2 linked regions of the Homo sapiens genome follow. The protein of the gene in region 1 purifies or fractionates together with the protein of each later gene. This does not show direct contact. Each region holds a gene or a part of one and is shown on either strand. Other genes may lie near its edges.

Region 1 (2,755 bases):
GATGAATCTCTAAGGATGGATTTGTTTGAGGTCATGTAGGTGTTGTCACAGTCATTGGTAGGGAAGAACTTTGGGGAAGAGTTAGATGGGTTACTATGATAATCAGAGCTGTCATTCACTGATGATTATGCTTTGTTATATGTTTTTTATATGCTAGTATGTTTTATCTTCTTCTTAAAAAATGATAGGCTTTTTTTTTTAATGAGAAGAAACCAAATCCAAGAGATGGAATTTGCCCAAGGGTGCTTATTAAGCCATAATTAGCAGAGCTGGAATTTGAACCCAGGTCTTGGATATCAAAGCCTTTTTCATTATTCCAGATTACTTGGTTAAATAACAGAGTATGCTGACTTTAGCCTTCCCATTTTATGGAGTTTGTCATGAGTGTGATCGTATTTGCTGCTCATGAGATTTCGCTCACTAATAAATTTGATTCATTTAATTATGTGTTTTCTCTTCCTAGATTTTAATTTGATTTGAAAATGAGTAAGTGCAGAAAGACACCAGTTCAGCAGCTAGCAAGTCCCGCGTCATTCAGCCCAGATATTCTTGCTGACATTTTTGAACTCTTTGCCAAGAACTTTTCTTATGGCAAGCCACTTAATAATGAGTGGCAGTTACCAGATCCCAGTGAGATTTTCACCTGTGACCACACTGAACTTAATGCATTTCTTGATTTGAAGAACTCCCTAAATGAAGTAAAAAACCTACTGAGTGATAAGAAACTGGATGAGTGGCATGAGCACACTGCTTTCACTAATAAAGCGGGGAAAATCATTTCTCATGTTAGAAAATCTGTGAATGCTGAACTTTGTACTCAAGCATGGTGTAAGTTCCATGAGATTTTGTGCAGCTTTCCACTTATTCCACAGGAAGCTTTTCAGAATGGAAAACTGAATTCTCTACACCTTTGTGAAGCTCCAGGAGCTTTTATAGCTAGTCTCAACCACTACTTAAAATCCCATCGGTTTCCTTGTCATTGGAGTTGGGTAGCGAATACTCTGAATCCATACCATGAAGCAAATGACGACCTCATGATGATTATGGATGACCGGCTTATTGCAAATACCTTGCACTGGTGGTACTTTGGTCCAGATAACACTGGTGATATCATGACCCTGAAATTCTTGACTGGACTTCAGAATTTCATAAGCAGCATGGCTACTGTTCACTTGGTCACTGCAGATGGGAGTTTTGATTGCCAAGGAAACCCAGGTGAACAAGAAGCTTTAGTTTCTTCTTTGCATTACTGTGAAGTTGTCACTGCTCTGACCACTCTTGGAAACGGTGGCTCTTTTGTTCTAAAGATGTTTACTATGTTTGAACATTGTTCCATAAACTTGATGTACCTGCTAAACTGTTGTTTTGACCAAGTCCATGTTTTCAAACCTGCTACTAGCAAGGCAGGAAACTCCGAAGTCTATGTGGTTTGCCTCCACTATAAGGGGAGAGAGGCCATCCATCCTCTGTTATCTAAGATGACCTTGAATTTTGGGACTGAAATGAAAAGGAAAGCCCTTTTTCCCCATCATGTGATTCCTGATTCTTTTCTTAAGAGACATGAAGAATGTTGTGTGTTCTTTCATAAATATCAGCTAGAGACTATTTCTGAAAACATTCGTCTATTTGAGTGCATGGGAAAGGCGGAACAAGAAAAGCTGAATAATTTAAGGGATTGTGCTATACAATATTTTATGCAAAAATTTCAACTGAAACATCTTTCCAGAAATAATTGGCTAGTAAAAAAATCTAGTATTGGTTGTAGTACAAATACAAAATGGTTTGGGCAGAGGAACAAATATTTTAAAACTTATAATGAAAGGAAGATGCTAGAAGCCCTTTCATGGAAAGATAAAGTAGCCAAAGGATACTTTAATAGTTGGGCTGAAGAACATGGTGTATATCATCCTGGGCAGAGTTCTATTTTAGAAGGAACAGCTTCCAATCTTGAGTGTCACTTATGGCATATTTTGGAGGGAAAGAAACTGCCAAAGGTAAAATGTTCTCCTTTTTGCAATGGTGAAATTTTAAAAACTCTTAATGAAGCAATTGAAAAGTCATTAGGAGGAGCTTTTAATTTGGATTCCAAGTTTAGGCCAAAACAGCAGTATTCTTGTTCTTGTCATGTTTTTTCTGAAGAACTGATATTTTCCGAGTTGTGTAGCCTTACTGAGTGCCTTCAGGATGAGCAGGTTGTAGTACCCAGCAATCAAATAAAGTGCCTGCTGGTGGGCTTTTCGACTCTCCGTAATATCAAAATGCATATACCGTTGGAAGTTCGACTCCTAGAATCAGCTGAACTCACAACTTTTAGCTGTTCATTGCTTCATGATGGAGATCCAACTTACCAGCGTTTATTTTTGGACTGCCTTCTACATTCATTGCGGGAGCTTCATACAGGAGATGTTATGATTTTGCCTGTACTTTCTTGCTTCACAAGATTTATGGCTGGTTTGATCTTTGTACTCCACAGTTGTTTTAGATTCATCACTTTTGTTTGTCCCACATCCTCTGATCCCCTGAGGACCTGCGCAGTCCTGCTATGTGTTGGTTATCAGGACCTTCCAAATCCAGTTTTCCGATATTTGCAGAGTGTGAATGAATTGTTGAGCACTTTGCTCAACTCTGACTCACCCCAGCAGGTTTTACAGTTTGTGCCAATGGAGGTACTCCTTAAGGGGGCCCTGCTTGATTTTTTGTGGGATTTGAATGCTGCCATTGCTAAAAGGCATTTGCATTTCATTATTCAAAGAGA
Region 2 (3,500 bases), on another chromosome or scaffold:
TGGAAGGGACTAGGGCAGGTGGGGAGCACAAAGACAGTTGCACATATGGGTGGGACTGGCCAGATATGGTAGAAAGGGAACTTGAAGGAGCTCATAGCTGGTCTCAATTTTCTATCTGAAAATCCAGGGAAGGGTTTTAGGGGCTATGGACAACAACATGGGTGCCATTGTTCAAGGCGTGCCCCTTGAACAATGCAGGTTTGAATTTCAAGAGTCCACTTATATGCAAATTTTTAAAATAAATGTATTAGAAACTTTTTTGAGAATTGCAACAATTTGAAAAAATTGCAGATGAATTTTGTGATCTAGAAATATCAAAAAAAATTAAGAAAAAGTTAGATATGCCCAGGAGTTTGAGACCGACCAGGGCAACATAGCAAGACTGTGTCTCTACAGAAAAAGATGTACTTTGGAAAAATGAGAATGCACCGGCTGATTAGAAGAAAAGGGTAGCTCTGCAGTGCTAAGGGTTCTACTCACTCTAGAAACCATAAATTTGTTGCAAGGTTTGTGGATTTTTCTCCAGCAACACTGGGCAGCCAATGAGAATCAAGTGGTAAGAACTAGTATTATTAGAAGAATTATGAAATTAAAGCCTTCATTGGATACCTCAGGTCCTGATCAAAATGTAAAACTCTGGGGGATAAAAACTTAAATGAATGGGTAAACGACAGGAATGACCAGTGCTGCTGGCCTAATTCGGGTGCCTTCAGCAGAGAGGTACAATTCAAGTTAGTGTTGCTTGAAAGAGCACGTCTTGAGGACAGTTTCAGAGAAAGAAAGTTGAAAAGTGGCCCTCTGGCAAGTAGACTCTGAAAGGGCAGTGAAAGAATCCACACAGGAGGGCCATGTCCAACAGAAATGGAATTGAAAACCCAAAAGAAGAAGAAAAAGATCAACAGAGAAAAACAAAAGCCACTTAAGCTACAACTCATAAGAAGGGGCCCAGATAAAGTGCTGAAATGTGTCATCTTGGGAAAAGGGAGGATCTCACTTGCAAAGAAAGATCCCTTAACTCCTAAAGGGACAAAATAGTGTCCCACAGGCATATAGTCATGGGCTACTAGGCTATTTACAGAACCTGAAAAAGCCAGTGCAGTCCATAATAAAAAGACTATTTCAAATTTCAAAGACCAATGAAAATTGAGTTGTCAATTTTAATAGCTACCATTACTTGTGCCATGCAATGCATTTTACATTCTCGATCTCATTTAAACCTCACAACTTCCATGTAAAGAAGGAATTCTTATTCTCATTTTATAGATGAAGACACAGAGGCTTACAGGGGTTAAGTAACTTGTCTTAAGTCATAGAATGAATAAGGGGTTGAACCAGAAATCCAATTGAAATGTGTCTAATCCTAAAGACCATGCTTTTAACCCTTGTTCTCTCTTGGACTCTAACACTGTTTTTTCTTATGAAAACACAGGAGTGATGACTAGTTGAGTGCATTCTTATGAGACTCATAGTCATTCTATGATGTAGTTTTCCTTAGGAGGACATTTTTTACATGAAATTATTAACCTAAATAGAGTTGATCCTTGAACAACACAGGTTTGAACTGCGAGGGTCCACTTATATGCAAATTTTTTCAATAACTATATGGGAAAATATTTTTGGAGATCTGTGACAATTAGAAAAACCTTGAGATGAACCATGTAGCCTAGAAATATTAAAAAAAAAAAAAAAGAAAAAGTTACTCATGTCACAAATGCATAAAATATACATCAATACTTGTCTGCCTTCTCATTTACTACCATAAAATATAAACAAATCTATTACAAACAGTTAGAACTTATCGAAATGTCAAAATGTACACATACACACAAGAACTGTGCGTGATGCCATCTGCAGATGAGAGAAATGTAAACGTAAAGATTAAATCCTCACTGCACGAAATGAACTGTAGTACATACTGTACCACTGTAATAATTTCACAGCTACCTCCTGTTGCTATTGTGGTGAGCTCAAGCGCTGCAAGTATCTGCTTAAAACACCTTGTGACGCTAATCATCTCCACGTGAACAGTTCATCTCTCCAGTAAATTGTGTACCGCAGTTAAAAGTGATCTCTTGAGGTTCTCGCATATTTTTCATGCTTAGTGAAATACCATAAACCTTGACTAACACCATGGGACTCTAACAAAGTGCCACTAGAGATGCTGGAAGTACTCCCAAGTATCAGAGAAAAGTCATGACATTATAAGAAAAGTTGAATTGCTTGATGTGTACCATAGGTTGAGGTGTGCAGCTGTGGTTACCTACCATTTCAGTCAGACAATGTAAACTTACAGTATCAGTAATGCAGCACAGTTTTGCAAACGTATTTTCTCTTCCTTATGATTTTCTTTATAACATTTTCTTTTCTCCAGTTTGTTTATTGTTAAGTATACAGTATACAATACAAAATATGTGTTGATTGACCATTATCAGTAAGGCTTCTGGTCAACGGTAGGCTATTAGCAGTTAAGTTTGTGGGGAGTTAAAAACTATACACAGATTTTTGACTGTACAGGGGGTCAATGTCCATAACCCCCACATAGTTCAAGGGTCAACTATATTCTAACAAGTATTATATCTTTCCATTTGTTGTGTCCTACAGTGGGACATAGCAGGTACCAAATGAATGAATGGGAGTCCTTGGGCCTCGGAGAATGCTACACCAAAGCACTGAGATAATCTGTGGACAGACTGATGGCAGTGATCTTGAGGAATGAAGAATGAGAGGTTCAAGAACACCAAAGAGAAAGTTGAAGAAGGCAGATTCTACAGAGCACAAAGCTGTGAGCTTATCCAGGATGCAGAGCAAGATCCGGCCTTATTATTACTGAAGTGATGGTTAATGGGGCCCCACACCTACTAACCATCACTTCAGCACTGATCATTGAGATCCAGCACATACTCACTAAGGACAGTCATTTCAAACCAACCCACTGCCTTCTTTGCCTGGGCTTGCAGAAATACCATATGCCGCAGCAAGCAGCTGGAGCTGGGTGGTGGCTGGCCCTTCAGAAGACGTTCTGTGTTCTTCCATTCATCCATTTACAGCCCCTGGATTAGTTGACAGACTGAATGAAGGAATCAGGACTTTACAGTGAAATATAACAGGGATGAAAATAAGATCTTACACTTGGTTTCAAAAACCCAACTGAGTAAATCCAAGATAGGGAAGGCTGTGATTTAGGAGCAACAAATATAAAAATGTCTTTGAGTAAGCTGATAGCAAGCTCAATGAGAGATCACAGTGCGACGTGGCTGGCAGAATAGTTAGAGGCAACCTTAGCTGCATTAAAAGAACATTGTGTCTGTGCTAGAATAAGGGAGATGACAGTCCTAATCTGGGGTGGCTGGCTTGCACTACAACTGTACTATGGTGACTTCTGGAGAGCTCACTTCGAGCGGGTCTGGTAACAGGTTGATCTGCTAGGTATTCTCCATTTCCACCGTCCCCACTGTGATCTATTCTCTGCACTGCTCTGTGCCCTATGGACGCTGCCCCTA

Evidence for each region.
Region 2: the proteins of CMTR2 (region 1) and PARVA fractionate together in Homo sapiens (co-fractionation; one large-scale study listed by BioGRID). This does not show direct contact.

What each region holds. Positions count from the first base shown.
Region 1 is NC_000016.10:71,283,648-71,286,402, reverse strand, and holds part of CMTR2 (cap-specific mRNA (nucleoside-2'-O-)-methyltransferase 2), read left to right. Parts: intron 1-463; 5' UTR 464-482; coding exon 483-2,755.
Region 2 is NC_000011.10:12,380,571-12,384,070, reverse strand, and holds part of PARVA (alpha-parvin), read right to left. Parts: intron 1-3,500. UniProt on the Homo sapiens protein: Plays a role in sarcomere organization and in smooth muscle cell contraction. Required for normal development of the embryonic cardiovascular system, and for normal septation of the heart outflow tract.